Regions from separate parts of the Homo sapiens genome. Here region 2 is linked to region 1. Evidence: fine-mapped expression QTL. A gene starts in region 1. The other region holds a variant in brackets. All regions are shown on one strand. Distances are from middle to middle.

Region 1 (8,000 bases):
AAATGGTGTGTTCACTCCTGAGGGTCCATGGGCCCTTGAAGCTGCTCATGGCTCCCCTGCTGCAGGATTCCCCTGGGTGCCCGTCAAACTACAGCTTCCCTGGGGGGCCTCCACCCCATACTTACCCACCAGCTTCTTAAGAGCTCGAGCTCGGACCCTTATAGTAGTAAACAGGCTCCCCAGAGCCTGGTGGCCTTTCTGGGGCCACCCGGCAGCCTGCATGGGACACCCATGGCCTTGTCTCCTCCGGCCCCAGCTCTCTTTTCCAGCTCAGCCAAGGCTGATGGCGGAAAAGAGCAGCTGACGTACGAGTCTGGGGAAGACGAGGAGGATGAGGAGGAGGAGGAAGAGGAGGAGGAGGACTTCAAGCCATCCGACGGCAGTGAAAACGAAATGGAGACAGAGATTCTGGACTACGTGTGACAGGGCCCAAGGCTGGGCCTCCCTGACCCGGCCAGACTGGTGTCTGGCCTAATGAGGGAGCCGGGGCTCCCCATTGCCACCCACAGTGCCCGGAATGGCCCTAGGAGGCCCTCTGAGGAGAGCTAGAGTCCCAGCAAAGGGTGCAGCTGACCCTAGCACTGGCTGTGACATGCTGCTTGGTGCTGCCTCTGGTCCTGAGGGGTTAGGGACATCCCCAAAGGGTATACCCTGGCTCTGCCACCCATGAACCAGCCCAGCATCCAGCCAGTGAGTGGGCACCCAATGCCTCTCAGGATGAGACCAGTAAATGCCGGAGGTGGAGCTGGGCAGCTGTGGAGCCCCAGGCCACAGGCCAGTCTCGCTTGGCTCTCATGACTGTGGTGGTGGAGATAGCGTGGGGAGCCTCGCCCATGGTCTCACGTGGCAAGAAGTGCCTTTAGCTCTGGATCCCAACCGTTTGGCACAGCTTTGGCCACAGCCAGGCCCCTCTGGAATTGTCCTTATTAAACCAGTTTCCCGAGAAGTCTTGGTTTCTTGGTGTGAATGTTGGCGCTGCAGGGGAGTCTTCTTATTGCCTTGGGGCTTGGGCCCCCTTTGTCCCTTCATATATTCCTTCATTCATTCCTTCATTCATTCAGTGACATGCTGGCAGTGCTGGCCTGTGCCCCCCTCACATGTGGTCGGGTTGGGTGAGGGCAGCTAGGAGGACTCCAGGCCTGGGGTCAGTTCTTCTCTAAATGAATACCTTCTTGACAAAGTCATGGGAAACGGGCCCTGCTGTCCTGTGGCTGCCCAGTGTGAAACTAGTGGGTCCTGAGCCCACCGAGCCTGCCTGCCTGGCCCCGCTCCCCATGTTGCCCTTGGCTGAGGCACCTCTTGTGTCTCCCCAAGTCGGCAGCAGCACTCCCTCCCAACCTGTGTGCGTGCCGAGTATTTGTTGAAGAAACAGTCAGTTGTCAGAGAATGGCCCTGTTCTGGATTGGCTGGTTGCTTCTGTGTGGTGCTGAACCTGCTCCTCTCTCCCCTGTATTTCCTGGGGACAGGTGGAGGCTCAGCCAGATTCGGGTTCAAGGTCTCTTCCTAGGCTGCGTCAGTCTGCATGCACGGGAGGTCTGCTTACTAGGATTGACCAGCAGGTTTAGGTGTTGTCAGCCTGATGTGTTGGTCTTTTATCTAACGGTTTTTGGGTTTCTGTGGTTTTTTGTTTCATTTGTGGGTCTTTTTTTTTTTTTTGAGATGGTCTTGCTTTGTCACCCAGGTTGGAGTGCAGTGATGCAATCAGGGCTCACTGCAGCCTCAACCTCCTGGGCTCGGGTGATCCTTCCACCTCAGCCTCCTGAGTAGCTGGAACTACAGGTTGTGTACCGCCATGCCCAGATAATTTTTGAATTTTTGTAGAGATGAGGTCTCACTAATGTTGTCCAGGCTGGGCTCAAGGGATCCTCCCGCCTCAGCCTTCCAAAGTACTGGGATTACAGGTGTGAGCCACTGCGTCCAGCCTATTTAATGGCTTTTGAATAGCCGTTGATAATTGCCTGGACCTACTACTTCCTTAAGGGTGCAAAATGGTGATTTTTTTGAATTATATCGTTCCCTCTGCATTTAGTAGCTGGAATCCTATAAAGGAATCTTCCTCATCGTCTGTTTGATTACCCTGAAATACTATTTTCACAGAAAAGAAGGGAAAATGCCTGTTATCACCTCTAACAGTTTTCAGAACAATGAGTTAGTGCCCTGGCAAGGGCCAGTGACAGGGCAGGAGGGGGTGGAGAGCGTGTTTCCTGGGCTGCCTGGTGAACTCTCACGTCTGTCAATTGCAGGCTTGCTTTTTCATGCCCAACTTGTCTATCTTTGCCCAGAGGCGGCCTCAGGTTGACCTCTGTAGTCCTTTGACACAAGCCTTGGGTCTTGGGCACCTTCCTTACTTACAGCTACCACGATGCTGCAGGCTCCAGCCCCTCCCTGGCATTTCCTGTTGCGGACCCGGCCCAACCATCTCCCCAGGGTGCACTCAGTCGGTGTGAATATGGTGTTTAGAGACCCCAGTCTGGTCACCAGGGGTGGGGCTTGCTCCTGGGATTTCGTTACTGCTAGGGCTTTGGAAGAGACAGAGCCAGGAAATAAGTTTTTTTTTTTTTTTTTTGCCAATTTTAAAAAAATAAAGTATGAGGCTGGGCACGGTGGCTCATGCCTGTAATCCCAGCACTTTGGGAGGCTGAGGCGGGCAGATCACTTGAGCTCAGGAGTTTGAGACCAGCCTGGCCAACATGGTGAAACCCAGTCTCTACTAAAAATACAAAAATCGGCTGGGTGTGATGGCGCACGCCTGTAATCCCAGCTACTTCAGAGGCTAAAGCAGGAGGATCCCTCGAACCCAGGAGTTCAAGACTGCAGTGAGCTATGATTGTGCCACTGCACTCTAGCCTGGGTGACAGAGACCCTGTCTCAAAAAAACAAACAAACAAAAAACCTCTGTGGACTCCGGGTGATAATGACATGTCAATGTGGATTCATCAGGTGTTAACAGCTGTACCCCCTGGTGGGGGATGTTGATAACGGGGGAGACTGGAGTGGGGCGAGGACATACGGGAAATCTCTGTAATCTTCCTCTAATTTTGCTGTGAACCTAAAGCTGCTCTAAAAATGTACATAGATATAAACTGGGGCCTTCCTTTCCCTCTGCCCTGCCCCAGCCCTCCCCCACCTCCTTCCTCTCCCTGCTGCCTCCCCTCTGCCCTCCCCTTTCCTCCTTAGCCACTGTAAATGACACTGCAGCAAAGGTCTGAGGCAAATGCCTTTGCCCTGGGGCGCCCCAGCCACCTGCAGGCCCCTTATTTCCTGTGGCCGAGCTCCTCCTCCCACCCTCCAGTCCTTTCCCCAGCCTCCCTCGCCCACTAGGCCTCCTGAATTGCTGGCACCGGCTGTGGTCGACAGACAGAGGGACAGACGTGGCTCTGCAGGTCCACTCGGTCCCTGGCACCGGCCGCAGGGGTGGCAGAACGGGAGTGTGGTTGGTGTGGGAAGCACAGGCCCCAGTGTCTCCTGGGGGACTGTTGGGTGGGAAGGCTCTGGCTGCCCTCACCCTGTTCCCATCACTGCAGAGGGCTGTGCGGTGGCTGGAGCTGCCACTGAGTGTCTCGGTGAGGGTGACCTCACACTGGCTGAGCTTAAAGGCCCCATCTGAAGACTTTGTTCGTGGTGTTCTTTCACTTCTCAGAGCCTTTCCTGGCTCCAGGATTAATACCTGTTCACAGAAAATACGAGTCGCCTCCTCCTCCACAACCTCACACGACCTTCTCCCTTCCCTCCCACTGGCCTCTTTCCCTCCCCTTCTGTCACTCTGCCTGGGCATGCCCCAGGGCCTCGGCTGGGCCCTTTGTTTCCACAGGGAAACCTACATGGTTGGGCTAGATGCCTCCGCACCCCCCCACCCACACCCCCTGAGCCTCTAGTCCTCCCTCCCAGGACACATCAGGCTGGATGGTGACACTTCCACACCCTTGAGTGGGACTGCCTTGTGCTGCTCTGGGATTCGCACCCAGCTTGGACTACCCGCTCCACGGGCCCCAGGAAAAGCTCGTACAGATAAGGTCAGCCACATGAGTGGAGGGCCTGCAGCATGCTGCCCTTTCTGTCCCAGAAGTCACGTGCTCGGTCCCCTCTGAAGCCCCTTTGGGGACCTAGGGGACAAGCAGGGCATGGAGACATGGAGACAAAGTATGCCCTTTTCTCTGACAGTGACACCAAGCCCTGTGAACAAACCAGAAGGCAGGGCACTGTGCACCCTGCCCGGCCCCACCATCCCCCTTACCACCCGCCACCTTGCCACCTGCCTCTGCTCCCAGGTAAGTGGTAACCTGCACAGGTGCACTGTGGGTTTGGGGAAAACTGGATCTCCCTGCACCTGAGGGGGTAGAGGGGAGGGAGTGCCTGAGAGCTCATGAACAAGCATGTGACCTTGGATCCAGCTCCATAAATACCCGAGGCCCAGGGGGAGGGCCACCCAGAGGCTGATGCTCACCATGGGGCGCCTGCAACTGGTTGTGTTGGGCCTCACCTGCTGCTGGGCAGTGGCGAGTGCCGCGAAGGTAAGAGCCCAGCAGAGGGGCAGGTCCTGCTGCTCTCTCGCTCAATCAGATCTGGAAACTTCGGGCCAGGCTGAGAAAGAGCCCAGCACAGCCCCGCAGCAGATCCCGGGCACTCACGCTCATTTCTATGGGGACAGGTGCCAGGTAGAACACAGGATGCCCAATTCCATTTGAATTTCAGATAAACTGCCAAGAACTGCTGTGTAAGTATGTCCCATGCAATATTTGAAACAAATTTCTATGGGCCGGGCGCAGTGGCTCACACCTGCAATCCCACCAGTTTGGGAGGCCGAGGTGGGTGGATCACTTGAGGTCAGGAGTTGGAGACCAGCCTGGCCAACATGGTGAAACCCCGTCTCTACTAAAAATACAAATATTAATCGGGCGTGGTGGTGGGTGCCTGTAATCCCAGCTACTCGGGAGGCTGAGGCAGGAGAACCGCTTGAAGCTGGGAGGTGGAGATTGCGGTGAGCTGAGATCACGCTACTGCACTCCAGCCTGGGTGACAGGGCGAGACTCTGTCTCAAAAAATAGAAAAAGAAAAAAATGAAACATACTAAAAAACAATTCACTGTTTACCTGAAATTCAAATGTAACTGGGCCTCTTGAATTTACATTTGCTAATCCTGGTGATTCCACCTCTCTGTTGTTCCCATTTTACAGAAGGGGAAACGGGCCCAGGGGCAGGGAGTGTGGAGAGCAGGCAGACGGGTGGAGAGAAGCAGGCAGGCAGTTTGCCCAGCATGGCACAGCTGCTGCCTCCTATTCCTGTGCAGGAAGCTGAAAGCCGAGCTACTCCACACCCGGGTCCGGGTCCCTCCAGAAAGAGAGCCGGCAGGCAGGAGCTCTCTCGAGGCATCCATAAATTCTACCCTCTCTGCCTGTGAAGGAGAAGCCACAGAAACCCCAAGCCCCACAGGAAGCCGGTGTCGGTGCCCGGCCCAGTCCCTGCCCCCAGCAGGAGTCACACAGGGGACCCCAGATCCCAACCACGCTGTTCTGCCGCCTGCGGTGTCTCAGGCCCTGGGGACTCCTGTCTCCACCTCTGCTGCCTGCTCTCCACACTCCCTGGCCCTGGGACCGGGAGGTTTGGGCAGTGGTCCTGGGCTCCTGACTCAAAGGAGAGGTCACCTTCTTCTTGGGCGAGCTCTTCTTGGGGTGCTGAGAGGCCTTCGGCAGGTCATCACGACCCCTCCCCATTTCCCCACCCTGAGGCCCTCTGGCCAGTCTCAATTGCACAGGGATCACGCCACTGGCACAAGGAGACACAGATGCCTCGCAGGGGATGCCCACGATGCCTGCATGTGTTGCTTCTGGTTCCTTTCCTCCAGTTCCAACCGCCGCACTCTCCCACACCAGTGTGACAGGGGGCCCATCACCCTAGACTTCAGAGGGCTGCTGGGACCCTGGCTGGGCCTGGGGGTGTAGGGCCACCCTGCCCTTCCCCACCTGGAACCTGGCACAGGTGACAGCCAGCAAGCAATGACCTGGTCCCACCATGCACCACGGGAAGAGGGAGCTGCTGCCCAAGATGGACAGGAGGTGGCACTGGGGCAGACAGCTGCTTCTCAACAGGGTGACTTCAAGCCCAAAAGCTGCCCAGCCTCAGTTCCGTCAGGGACAGAGGGTGGATGAGCACCAACCTCCAGGCCCCTCGTGGGGGTGGACAGCTTGGTGCACAGAGGCCATTTTCATGGCACAGGGAAGCGTGGCGGGGGTGGGAGGTGTGGTCCCTAGGGGGTTCTTTACCAGCAGGGGGCTCAGGAACTGTGGGGACTTGGGCATGGGGCCATCGACTTTGTGCCCAGCCAGCTAGGCCCTGTGCAGGGAGATGGGAGGAGGGAAAAGCAGGCCCCACCCCTCAGAAAGGAGGAAGGTTGGTGTGAAACATCCCGGGTACACTGAGCATTGGGTACACTCCTCCCGGGAGCTGGACAGGCCTCCCATGTGATGGCAAACAGGCCGACAGGAGACACGGCTGTTGCTCGTCTTCCACATGGGGAAACTGAGGATCGGAGTCAAAGCTGGGCGGCCATAGCCAGAACCCAAACCTCCATCCCACCTCTTGGCCGGCTTCCCTAGTGGGAACACTGGTTGAACCAGTTTCCTCTAAGATTCTGGGAGCAGGACACCCCCAGGGATAAGGAGAGGAACAGGAATCCTAAAGCCCTGAGCATTGCAGGGCAGGGGGTGCTGCCTGGGTCTCCTGTGCAGAGCTGTCCTGCTTTGAAGCTGTCTTTGCCTCTGGGCACGCGGAGTCGGCTTGCCTTGCCCCCTCCGGATTCAGGCCGATGGGGCTTGAGCCCCCCTGACCCTGCCCGTGTCTCCCTCGCAGCTGGGCGCCGTGTACACAGAAGGTGGGTTCGTGGAAGGCGTCAATAAGAAGCTCGGCCTCCTGGGTGACTCTGTGGACATCTTCAAGGGCATCCCCTTCGCAGCTCCCACCAAGGCCCTGGAAAATCCTCAGCCACATCCTGGCTGGCAAGGTGGGAGTGGGTGGTGCCGGACTGGCCCTGCGGCGGGGCGGGTGAGGGCGGCTGCCTTCCTCATGCCAACTCCTGCCACCTGCAGGGACCCTGAAGGCCAAGAACTTCAAGAAGAGATGCCTGCAGGCCACCATCACCCAGGACAGCACCTACGGGGATGAAGACTGCCTGTACCTCAACATTTGGGTGCCCCAGGGCAGGAAGCAAGGTCTGCCTCCCCTCTACTCCCCAAGGGACCCTCCCATGCAGCCACTGCCCCGGGTCTACTCCTGGCTTGAGTCTGGGGGCTGCAAAGCTGAACTTCCATGAAATCCCACAGAGGCGGGGAGGGGAGCGCCCACTGCCGTTGCCCAGCCTGGGGCAGGGCAGCGCCTTGGAGCACCTCCCTGTCTTGGCCCCAGGCACCTGCTGCACAGGGACAGGGGACCGGCTGGAGACAGGGCCAGGCGGGGCGTCTGGGGTCACCAGCCGCTCCCCCATCTCAGTCTCCCGGGACCTGCCCGTTATGATCTGGATCTATGGAGGCGCCTTCCTCATGGGGTCCGGCCATGGGGCCAACTTCCTCAACAACTACCTGTATGACGGCGAGGAGATCGCCACACGCGGAAACGTCATCGTGGTCACCTTCAACTACCGTGTCGGCCCCCTTGGGTTCCTCAGCACTGGGGACGCCAATCTGCCAGGTGCGTGGGTGCCTTCGGCCCTGAGGTGGGGCGACCAGCATGCTGAGCCCAGCAGGGAGATTTTCCTCAGCACCCCTCACCCCAAACAACCAGTGGCGGTTCACAGAAAGACCCGGAAGCTGGAGTAGAATCATGAGATGCAGGAGGCCCTTGGTAGCTGTAGTAAAATAAAAGATGCTGCAGAGGCCGGGAGAGATGGCTCACGCCTGTAATCCCAGCACTTTAGGAGGCCCACACAGGTGGGTCACTTGAGCGCAGAAGTTCAAGACCAGCCTGAAAATCACTGGGAGACCCCCATCTCTACACAAAAATTAAAAATT
Region 2 (11,693 bases), 32 kb before region 1:
GTGAGGGCGGAGGGGGGCGGTCCTCTCGGCTTCATCATCCGAGCCCAGCACAGGATCGGGCACATCGCGGGGAGCATTTGGTAAATGGATGTCTGAATGGCTGCTGTGAAGTGACCGGTCTTAGTTCAGGCTACTAGAACAAAAATGTCATAGACTCGGGGGCTTAAACAACAGAAATTTGTTTCTCACAGTTCTGGAGGCTGGGAAGTCCCAGGTCAAGGTGCGGGCAGATACAGGGTCTGGCGAAGGTCCTCTTCCTGGCTGGCAGGCGACCGCCTTCTTGCTGTGACCTCACACAGCAGAGTGGAGTGAGCACGCACTCTTGTCTCCTCTATGAGGGCACTAATCCCGCCACGAGGGCTCCACACTCGTGACCTCATCACCTCCCAAGGCAGCAACTCCTAATACCAGCTCAGGGAGTTAGAGTTTTAACATATAGTCTGGAGAGTGGGTGGGGACAACACTTGCTGCAATTCAGCCACCCAGGCTGCGCTGCGACATTTACACCATGTGCCCCCAGTGACGGTCAGTAACTCAAAGAGGACCCCCAGCCTGGAAATGGGTGGTCTCTGGCCCCATAGGAGGGGTAAAGAATGAAGCGGGGAGGCCTGATTTATAGTGAGTGAGCTCCAGTAACTTAAGAGAAGAAAACCTGACCTGCTTATGCCAGAAAATGTTATGACTCGGCCCTGCGCAGTGGCTCACGCCTGTAATGCCAGCATTTTGGGAGGCTGAGGCAGGTGGATCATGGGGTCAGGAGTTCGAGACCAGTCTGGCCAACATGGTGAAACCCCGTGTCTAATAAAAATACAAAAATTAGCCAGGTGAGGTGGCATCGTCCTGCAGTCCCAACTACTTGGGAGGCTGAGGCAGGATAATTGCTTGAACCTGGGAGGTGGAGGTTGCAGTGAGCCGAGATCATGCCACTGTCCTCCAGCCTAGGCAACAGAGCAAGACTCCGTCTCAAAAAGAAAAAGAAAAAAAAAAGAAAATGTTATGACCCAAAAATAAATTCTGGAAATGCTCTGGAAATTCAAGGACTCCCTGATCTGTATTCATCTCCTAAGGTGACTGTGAGAAATCGCCACACACTGGGTGACTGAAAACACAACACAAATGTGATTTTCAGAGTTCTGGAGGCCAGCAGTCCGGTAGCAAGGTGACAGTAAGATCCAATTCCGCCCCCCCCCCCGACTCACGTCACAGGAAATTAAACATTTAAGCTGAAAAAATGTTCAAACCAAGCAGGGCAGTGCCCATGCACAGAAGTGAGGCCCAACGGGCGAAGCGGACTCATCCTCCCTCCTCATGCCAACAGCAGCTCAAAGCTTCTCAATGGCAAAACTTCTACCAGGTCCTGTCTAAGGCCAAGATTCCTCCTAAAACCCAAACCATCCCCGAGGGGGCCAGCTCCTCGGTCCCTTCAGCAGGAGGGTCCCTGAGTCTGGAAAGAGGAGCTCAGCTCCAAGGGGTGGTGGTGGAAGATGCACCCTTCTGTGTCTTGTGCCAGGGGTCCCCACCTGTGGGCAGCAAGCCACCCAGGTGCCAAGGCAAGAGACCGAGGGCACAAGCTGTTCCAGTATAATAAAATATATAAAATAACAAGAGTTATACTACATATAGATCATAGATATATGTAAGTACCACTAATCATCAGTTTGTAGTAATTACTCTTTATTCAACTATTATAATAATCCTCGCTCTACAATCATAACCTAGGAAAAGCCAGGCCATACAGAGATAGGAGCTGAAGGGACATGGTGAGAAGTGACCAGAAGACAAGAGCATGAGCCCTCTGTCACACCCAGACAGGGCCACCAGAGGGCTCCTTGGTCTAGCGGTAATGCCAGCGTCTGGGAAGACGCCCGTAGCCAAGCGGACCGTGTTCTAGCAGTAGCATCAGTGCCAAGGAAAAGCACCGGCTACTTAGCAGACCGGGAAAGGGAGTCTCCCTTTCCCTGGGGGAGTTTAGAGAAGACTCTACTCCACCACCTCTTGTTGAGGGCCTGACCCGCCCACAGTTATCCGGAGGCCTAACCGTCTCCCTGTGATGCTGTGCTTCAGCGGTCATGCTCCTGGTCCGCTTTCATGTTCCATCCTGTACACCTGGCTCTGCCTTCTAGATAGCAGTAGCAAAATTAGTGAAAGCACTAAAAGTCTCTGATATGCAGAAATAATGGTGTAAGCTGTCTCCTCCCTCTCTTTCTCTCCACCTTGGCTGCCAAATAGGGAAGGGCCCCCTGTCCAGTGGACACGTGACCCACGTTACCTTACCTATCATTGGAGGTGGCTCACACTCCTTACCCTGCCCGCTTGTCTTGTATCCAATAAATAACAGCACAGGCTGGCATTCGGGGCCACTACCAGTCTCCACGTCTCAGTGGTAGTGGTCCCCCAGGCCCAGCTGTCTTTTCTTTTATCTCTCTGTCTTGTGTCTTTATTTCTACGATCTCTCGTCTCCGCACAAGGGGAGAAAAACCCACAGACCCTGTAGGGCTGGTCCCTACATCCACCCTTTCCCTGAGCAACAAACGCTGGTTGCAGCACCCAAGCGTCCTTCAGGAGCTCCGAATCTCTCCCGTGTGGAAGTGGCACATAGAGGCTGCCCCCCACCCCCAGTGTGCCCAATCCGCCCATAGGAGGTGGCTAGAGCTGTAGTGCCCTTCTGTCCAGTGGGATGAAATCTGCCACCCCACAGCAGGGCAAGATGCGAGAAGCATGCTGCGTTAGTCTGTTTTCTGCTGTTATAACAGAATATCCCAGACTGGGTAATTCCTACAGGAAAAACATTTGTTTCTTGTAGTTCTGGAAGCTGAGAAGTTCAAGGACACGGTGGCAGCATCTGCTAAGGGTCTTTGCATTCTTGCTGTGCCATAACATGGTGGAGGGCACATATGCAAGAGGGCAGGAGAGAGAGAGCCGGAGAGAGCTTGCCTCTATAACAAAGAGATAAGCAACTCACTCCCACAACAGCGACATTAATCCATGCATGAGGGCAGAGCCAACATTAATTTATTCATGAGGGCAGACAAATTAAGTTTCCAACACATGAAATTTGGGGGACATTTTCAAACCATAGCATATGCCCTGAATCCAGGCAGAGAAAGTGTCCCCTCAGTGCACAAATATTGTCACAGCTGCCTGCTCTGAATGCTGCAAGGTTTTGGAGAACGTTAAAGCTACTTCTTTTTTTTTTTTTTTTTTTTTTTTTGAGATGGAGTCTCACTCTGTCACTCAGGCTGGAGTGCAGTGGCATGATCTCTGCACACTGCAACCTCTGCCTCCTGGGATCAAGCGAGACTCCTGCCTCAGCCTCCCGAGTAGCTGAGATTACAGGCATGTGCTACCACATGTGGCTAATTTTTGTATTTTTAGTAGAGATGGGGTTTCACTATGTTGGCCAGGCTGGTCTCGAACTCCTGACCTCAAGTGATCCACCCGCCTTAGCCTCCCAAAGTGCTGGGATTACAGGCATGAGCCACCGCTCCCAGCCAAAGCTACTTTTTAACTGGGTTCCTGATCTTTCTTGGCCTGTCTCTGCTCCCAGCCTTGCCTTACTGCTCCTGCCTCTGACCTCCCGCTTTGGATCTCAGGCAGGACCAAGTCTAATCTCAAAAAGCTTGGTCTGATGCCCTGGGGTTGGTCCCTTGTCTTCCCCTCACACTCAGCCCCTCCTCACTTCCTGTGCACTAAGGGACACTCCTTGTCTGACAAGCCTTGATTTAGTGTCCCTATGACCATGCCCTGACCCGGGGCTCGATTGAAGGCTCAAATAAGACAAGTGGCCTCATTCAGTTGTTCAATAAATACTTCCTGAGCACCTGCTCGGTGCTCAGCCCCATGCAAAGCAGTGGTGACAGTGGGAAGACAGTGGTGAATAAGACAGACATGGTCCCTGTCTTCAGAAAGTTGCCACTCAAGTGGAGAAGTAAAAAAGAAAAAAAATAATAGTGCTTCCGGCTCCATGATGCAGTGGGTTTGGGGCCCCGGGCAGCGAGGATGGCACCAAACTAGTGTTTTGGGGTCAGGGAGGATTTACCAGGCAAATTGAAGTCTAAGGCAACAACCTAAAGGAGAGGAGTAGTTAGCCAGGTGGTGGGCCAGGGATGCTGGGGAGTCACTGGAGGCAGGGACAGACTGCGATCTCATTCTGGAAAGATCACTCTTGCTTCAGTAAGGAGGAAAAATACAGCAGACAAACTAGAGGGTCACTGGATTGCATGGTGGGCTCACTAAGGTTCCAGGTGGTTTGGAATCAGCTTTCCAAATTCAGAAACTCAATCTCAATACCCGGAGGTGGGAGTGCCATATTTAGCAAATTAAAAAATCACCTAGCTAAATATGAATCTCAGATAACACATATTTAGTATAAATATGCCCCAAATATTGCATGAATTCAAATTTAACTGTGTTCAATATTTTATTGGCCAACTCTACCAACAGTGACCAAGTCTTCATGACTGTCTTATGTGCACCAAACTCACAGGGATCTGATGTAAATACACCAATTTATTGATTTACAATTGCAGGCAAGGTTAAAATATACATGTTATTCAGTTTCTCCTTTCTGGAAAATGAAACAGTCAGAAGACTGGTGAACATGGAATGAGGACAAAAGGACACAAGGAAGTTTGAAAGGAAATTTCATCTCAAGGCATGGTAAATTCTGGAGAATCATCCTGGCCTCCCTACAGAGAATCCTCTTTGGTGGCAGAAAGTGCAGGTCCCCCCTGGAGAGGGCAGGTCAGGGACCACCGGGTCCTCGTGTGCAGCTCCCTGTGGAAACACGTGGTTCTTCTAGCTCAACCATCATCTGCTGGTGGTTGATTTCCCACTGTACTCTCAGGAGGTGTTCTTTCAAAGCTTTGGGGCTCCTGACCCAGCCTTCCAATTACAATACAATATATTTCACATTGAGGTTACACTTTAGAATGTATTCAGTGGGCTGAATTCATGTAGCTATTTATTCTGCCTTCTTAAACCCAAGGAGAGCAATCAGGTACTCTTCTGATTAAGAAATCACAGGCTGGGCACGGTGGCTCACGCCTGTAATCTCAGCATTTTGGGAGGCCGAGGTGGGCAGATCATGATGTCAGGAGATCGAGACCATCCTGGCCAACATGGTGAAACCCCATCTCTACTAAAAATACAAAAATTAGCTGGGCGTGGTGGCGCATGCCTATAATCCCAGCTACCCGGGAGTTTGAGGCAGGAGAATCGCTTATACCAGGGAGTCGGAGGTTGCAGTGAGCCGAGATTGTGCTACTGCATTCCAGCCTGGTGACAGAGTGAGGCTCTGTCTCAAAACAAACAAACAACAAAAAGAAATGACTTTAGGCAACATAGTGAGACCCCGTCGCCACACACACACAAATACAAAATTAGTCGGGTATGGTGGTGCACGCCTGTAGTCCCAACTACTCAGGAGGCTGAGGCAGGAGGATCACTTGAGCCCAGGAGTTCGGGGCTGCAGTGAGCCATGATCACACCACTACACTCCAGCCTGGGTGACAGAGGGAGATCGTGTCTTTCAAAAAAAAAAATCACTTCAGAAACGGGGTACCCATACCCAAGGGGTCACTTGCTCTTACTAATTTCTAGCTGTAATGCAAGTGGCATGATCATAGCTCACTGCAGCCTCCAACTCCAGGGCTCAAAGGATCCTCCTGCCTCAGCCTTTTGAGTAGTTGGGACTACTGTGGCATGCACCACCATGGCCGGCTAATTTTGTATTTTTTGGTAGAAATGGGGTCTTCCCCTGTTGCCCAGGCTGGCCTCCAACTGCTGGGCTCAACTGATCCTCCCGCCTCAGCCTCCCAAAGTGCTGGGATTACAGGCGTGAGCCACTGTGCTGGGCCATGATTCTCATCTCCCAATATTCTCAAACCCAGTCCCTTCATCTCTTGACTGGATTATGCAGTCTCGGAGCTGGTTTATCTGAACTCACTTTCTCCCCCTTTGATCTGTTCTCCACACAACAGCCAGAGAGGTCTTTCAAATGCATGAATGGGATCACTGCTCCGCATAAAACCCTTCAAGGGGCCAGGCGCGGTGGCTCACGCCTGTAATCCCAGGACTTGGGGAGGCCGAAGCAGGCGGATCATTTGAGGTCAAGAGTTCAAGACCAGCCTGGCCAACATGGTGAAACCTCGTCTCTACTAAAAATACAAAAATTAACCGGGCATGGTGGCAGGCGCCTGTAATCCCAGCTATTCGGGAGGCTGAGGCACGAGAATAGCTTGAACCCGAGGCGGAGGTTGCAGTGAGCCGAGAAAGCGCCACTGCATTCTAGCCTGGGCGACACAGCGAGATTCCTTCTCAAAAAAAGAAACCTTCAGGGGCTCTCCACGGCACTGGGAAGCAGCCAGCCCGACGGGTGGACCCTTTTCGTGGGTGCGGGTCTCTGACCTCGGTCGGCCTCGGACCTCATCTCCTCCCTGTTTGAGGGGCCACACTCCTCGCTCCGGGGCTTTGCAGCAGCCCTGGGCGCCTACCGGACAGACGCCGTTCTCCCCGCCTGGGTCTTGAGTAGGGCCCAGCACACAGTAGGCGCTTAATGTCTGCCTGCCTAACAGACGAACGCCGGATGCCCGCGTTCGGCCCCGAGCCGGCGCTTCGGGGCTTTCTGTGGAGGCGGGGCGATGGTTACAGCACAGTTCCCCCGCGCTCGCCTTTTCCACATCCACCTCCGCGAGGCCCCCCGCAAGCGCCGTTGGAAACCTAGTCCCGAGGGGGCTGCAAGAGCTTGGGAGAAGAAGCGCCAACACCGACAGAATACCAGGCCGACCCAATGCGGAAATCAATTCTCAGCCGGGACCTTTTCCCCACCAAGCAGGCGGGCCGGAAGTCTGCCTCTGGCCCGCCCCCGAGGTGTCATTGGGTGGAATACCCAGAAGAGGGCTGGGACGTGGTTAACTCTAGTTCTTTATTGGTTAAAACGTACGAAGCTGGAGGAGAAGGTGGGACCTAGCTTCCTCCGGACTTCTCATTGGCTCAAAAAAAAACTCGCTCGGCCCTCGGATTCTCATTGGCTGAAGTCGAGGGAGGTTTGTGTCTTATTATC[C/T]TCCGGGTCCCTCGCTGGCTAGTAGGAGAGACTGGTGCTTGCCCCGCCCGGTGGACTAACTCGCTTAATTTTAAATAAAAAGTCGAGGACACGGCGGTCGTTTTCCCGAAGACATGGGCCCTCCCATGGGCCATTTGCTCCCTGGAGGCCCTCGCGTCTTGCTGAGCCCGGGGAGTTAGGATGACGCGAGCGGTGAGGGAGCCCGGAACGATTCCTTCGCGGAACAATTGAGGCGAGGCCTTTGGGAGTACTTTGTGGGACGGACCCTGGCGGGCCCTGCCAGACGCACAGGGATGGCGGCGGAGGCGGCCGATTTGGGGCTGGGGGCCGCCGTCCCCGTGGAGCTGAGGCGGGAGCGACGCATGGTGTGCGTGGAGTACCCGGGAGTGGTGCGTGATGTGGCTAAGATGCTGCCGACTCTGGGCGGCGAGGAAGGCGTCTCCCGGGTAAGGGGCTGGGAATCTCGGTGTTGGAATAAGAGCTCGGAGTCGCAAAGAAAACGAGCACTCAAAGGATTTCTCAGCAAGGGAAATTTAGCAAATTTACTTACGCAGAAGGGTGCTGCTCGCTCTTCTGGCCGCTGCAAGAGAGCCAACAGAACAAAGAAGGGAAGGATTTTTGTTTTTGTTTTTGTTTTTTTGTTGGTTTTTCAGGCGGAGTTTCGCTCTTGTTTCCCAGGCTGGTGTGCGGTGGTGCGATTTTGGCTCACTGCAACCTCCGCCTCCAGGGTTCAAGCGATTCTCCTGCCTCAGCCTCCAGAGTAGCTGGGATTACAGGCGCATGCCACCACGCCCGGCTAAATTTGTATTTTTTAGTAGAGAGGGGGTTTCACCATGTTGGTCAGGCTTGTTGGAAATAAATTTTGGGTGCCGCAAAGAAGAATCAGCACTCTGGCAAACAGTTTTCTCAGCAAGGCAAATTTCCTTCTATAGAAGGGTGCATCTTGCGGATGGAGCAATGGCGAGAGCACACCGACAAGGAAGGGGAAGGGGTTCCTATCTCTTACACAGCTAGTCTCTACTGCTGTGTCTTTCCCATATTGGCTAGGGTTGGACCGCACAGTCTAAGCTAATTCCGATTGGTTATTTCAAAGAGGGCAGGGGCACAGGCCTGAGTGGCGGGGTGAGTAGTTTTGGTGGGAAGGATGGTTACAGAGCAGGTGACTCAGGATGACTAAGGACAGAGCAGGTGATAGAAGCTAGGAAGGGGTTGTTTACTGAAACTAGGGGCAAGGAGGCGTAAAGAACGAGGGGTTAAACTTTAAAATGGAGAACAAAGAACAGGGAAGCTGAACATACTGACATATTGGTTCTTTGAAATGGAACTCATAACTCATTGTATTTATTAATTTTCCCCCTCTTGAATTTAAAGGAAGGTAAAAGGCTAAAATCTTTGAAGTGGAATTTACTGTGTCCTATAGGCTGGTCTTGAACTCCTGAGCTCAGGTGATCCACCCGTCTTGGCCTCCCAAAGTGCTGGGATTATAGGCGTGAGCCACCGTGCCCAGCCTGGAATGGGTTTTTATCCCTAAGGCAGTCAGTCCCTGTTTTTGTGTCCTGTCCCTGCTGGTTGGAGTTGGACCACACAATCTAAGCTAATCTCAATTGGCTATTTTAAATAGAACAGGGGTGTGGGTTACAGTGACGGGACGAGCGATTTCGGTGGGAAGACTAGTTTCGGCGGGAAGGGCAGTTAAACAGAGCGGGTAACTAAGGGCAAGGAGGCACAAAGAACAAGGAAGTTAGACTTTGAAGATGGAGAACAAAGAACAAGGGAGTTGAACAAGCTGAACCTTTGAAGAAGAATTCACTGTATAGAACAGTTTCCCCCTCTTGATTTTCATACTTCTTTCTCTTCAAACCTTTTTAGCATGTCTCGACTTTGCTGTTCTTGGTTTTCTAAAAGTAGAAGTTTGTCTGAATAAGGCGGGGGGAAATTGGAGGTTAGTGAGAGCTGTCTCCGTAAGTCTTTGTATTAACCCTCAGGCACAGGGTATGATACAACATCCTACGAGAATAAACACGTTTATTACAATGGCAAGGGACATAAGGATCGAGGACATAAGTCCTTTCCACCTGCCGAACAATCTTCCCGTTAGATCAGTGAAGAGATCGTTTATCCCAGAATTTTAAGCTAGCTCATTGGATAAAGCAGTAAGACCTTGCAGTGCCTTTGTTATGGTTCCGTCAGGAACAGTATTATTTGGGATAAAAGTACAACATTGGGTTCCAAGCATGACACAAACGCCACCCCTCTCTGCTAGTATCATTTCTAATGCTATTCTATTTTCCCAAGCCATTTGACTGGTGGGTCCTAGTTGTTCAGCTGTTCCTTTGATAGCATTCCTAGTATAATTAACAAATTGTTGCTGGTTGTAATAGATGTAACTTATCCAATCTACATTTTTATTTATAGTTAACCACCAGAAAAACATAGACTCAAATCCCGCAGCTATTTGATTACAAGCCTTAAATTCATCAGGTACCCCTCGGGGAACTCCAGTGGCATCTGTATAAACACGAGGGTCAAAGGAACCACGGGGGGCATCTCTTACTCTACGGTGTCTTGTTTTTACTTCTTCTGGTTGATGAAATGCCAGAGTGAAAGGGATGGCCAATTGGATCAGAGCACAGGTACCGCTCCAGTTACTTGGCAGAGTATCCAGTTACGGTCCACCACAATGCCACCATACATCTGCTCAGGATAAATGACTAGGGGCAGATTCATGGGTAAGCTCTTGGAAGGGCTTAAGCTCACTGCATCCTGTTAGGTCCCCAAGGAATGCCAAATTTTCCCTGTCACAAGAGACACAAAGTAAAATTGGCACTGGGAGACAGAAGCTGGATAGCCCTCAGGGGCTGACCCGCAGGGTGTTGAACCTCAGGGAACAGCAGAGAGAGAGCTCGGCACGATTTATCACCCCAGGCTGTGGGGTCCTGGAAAAGAGCTACCGTACAGCCCATGCCCACTCGTCTGGAGGACCATCCAAGTGGAAAGGGGACAGTCTGGGCTTCTGGTCTACTGTGTGCACAAGTGTAACAATCACTTTTGTTTAAAGTGCGGACAGAATATTTAATCCATTCCATCCAGGCGTTTGCATCTCAGTACCCTGTTTCAATTGCTAGAGTTTGCTTTAGGTCTCTTACTTCTACAGCTGCTACTTTGGCTGGGTCGTTGTGGAGACCGGAGGGGAACACTGGGCCTGATATGTTTGGGGAGAGCGTTGGGTCCCATACGTTCCCTGGACTCTGGGTCTGGGTTTCTTCATTGTTTTTAACCGCCGATGGTCCAGTCAACCTTAGAGAGGGTTCCTATGGGATCCCGTCCTGTAACATCTGCTCCTAACCCGTACCGTCCGAATACAGAGGGTTCTTGGGCCATTGTTTGGGGATTATCTATAATTAGCAATAAGGGGTTACACCGCAGTGGCTTACAATTTGGTGGAGTGGAGCGATGGATAAGTTAGAGTTTTTGTTTGAGTTTCCGCAACTTATTTAAAGGAGGGGGGTTGGCTGTCCGCCTCCCATATTGACTGGTCCACCAAACATTTGCCCAGTCACCACAGGGGCCCTTTAAGGCTCCATACTTATACTTGTTTGACTGTCTGCGATATGGACATGGATACTTAACTACATCGGATAGCTGCCTTTGAGCTTGTTCGTATCTGCACGGGGTAAGAACAAGTGTCGAACTGAAGGGTCAAGGGATGGTTAGCCTGAGTCACATTGATGACAAGATGACCTTATGTTGGAAAGAAAAGGAAAAATAGACAAGTGATTATTAAGCCCTTTTTAGGGTTAGTTTGGTAGGGGTGGGTCCCGGGGTGACAGCCCATTTTTCCCTGTCTGTGGACATTACTCCTTTCACCTGGCGTGTAGTGTGCCCATCCCTTTTCAGCCGTTCGAATCGCTGTTTCAGTAGTTAAGAGTACCAGATAAGGCCCTTCCCAAGCTGGTTCAAGTTTTCCCTCCTTCCAGCTTTTGATGAGAACGTGATCCCCAGGCTGATGCTGGTGTGCTGGAAACTCTAGAGCTGGCGTCTGTGCTCAGAGGCCTTCAGTCCTGAGGGAAGAAAAAGTGGAGGAGAGACCAAGTTTATAGTTTTTAAGAAACTGATCTTTGTTTCAAACGTAGCAATGTCAGCAATGGAGTGTAGATAAGGCAACCCATATAGCATTTCATAAGGGGATAAGCCAACATCTTTCCAAGGGGCAGTTCGGATTTTTCACAAGGCAATGGGAAGGCATTTAGTCCATGGCAACCGAGTCTCTAAGACTAATTTGGTTAAGTGACTCTTCAGAGTTTGGTTCATTCTCTCCACTCTTCCTGATGAAGGTGGGTGCCAGGGAGTGTGGTATTCCCCTGCTATGTCTAGTACTTGGGCTAGTTTCTTGACGGCATGTGCAGTGAAATGAGTCCCATTATCTGAATCAATATTTTGTATTAATCTGTTAAACCTGGGTATAATATTCTCAATCAATGCTTTAATTACATTATTAGCAGTTGCACTTGAAAAGGGAATAGGTTCCCTCCAGTGCGTAAGGTGATCTACTATCACTAATAAGTACTTTAGGCAACCGACTGGGGGCATTTCGGTGTAATCAATTTGGACACTTTGGGACGGTCTTAAC

The links.
Region 2: its variant is fine-mapped to the expression of CEL in whole blood (TOPMed, PIP above 0.99).

Annotation. Positions count from the first base shown.
Region 1 is chr9:133,057,558-133,065,557 of GRCh38, forward strand. CEL (carboxyl ester lipase) reads left to right here and starts at 4,424. Exons shown (of 11, transcript NM_001807.6): 1 at 4,424-4,511; 2 at 6,847-6,997; 3 at 7,083-7,205; 4 at 7,483-7,680. The coding sequence starts at 4,446. It overlaps GTF3C5 (general transcription factor IIIC subunit 5), which reads left to right. Exons shown (of 11, transcript NM_012087.4): 11 at 257-946. The coding sequence ends at 423. It overlaps LOC124902325, which reads right to left and starts at 3,775. Exons shown (of 2, transcript XM_047424377.1): 1 at 3,192-3,775; 2 at 524-617. The coding sequence starts at 3,775. The coding sequence ends at 524. RefSeq lists enhancers at 2,635-3,386, 3,387-4,139.
Region 2 is chr9:133,023,656-133,035,348 of GRCh38, forward strand. It overlaps GTF3C5 (general transcription factor IIIC subunit 5), which reads left to right and starts at 7,342. Exons shown (of 11, transcript NM_012087.4): 1 at 7,342-7,509. The coding sequence starts at 7,357. It overlaps LOC105376306 (a long non-coding RNA gene), which reads right to left and starts at 6,767. Exons shown (of 2, transcript NR_135119.1): 1 at 6,495-6,767; 2 at 4,497-4,776. RefSeq lists enhancers at 6,523-6,772, 7,007-7,658, 7,103-7,362. The variant C/T (reference allele first, on the strand shown) is at 7,064.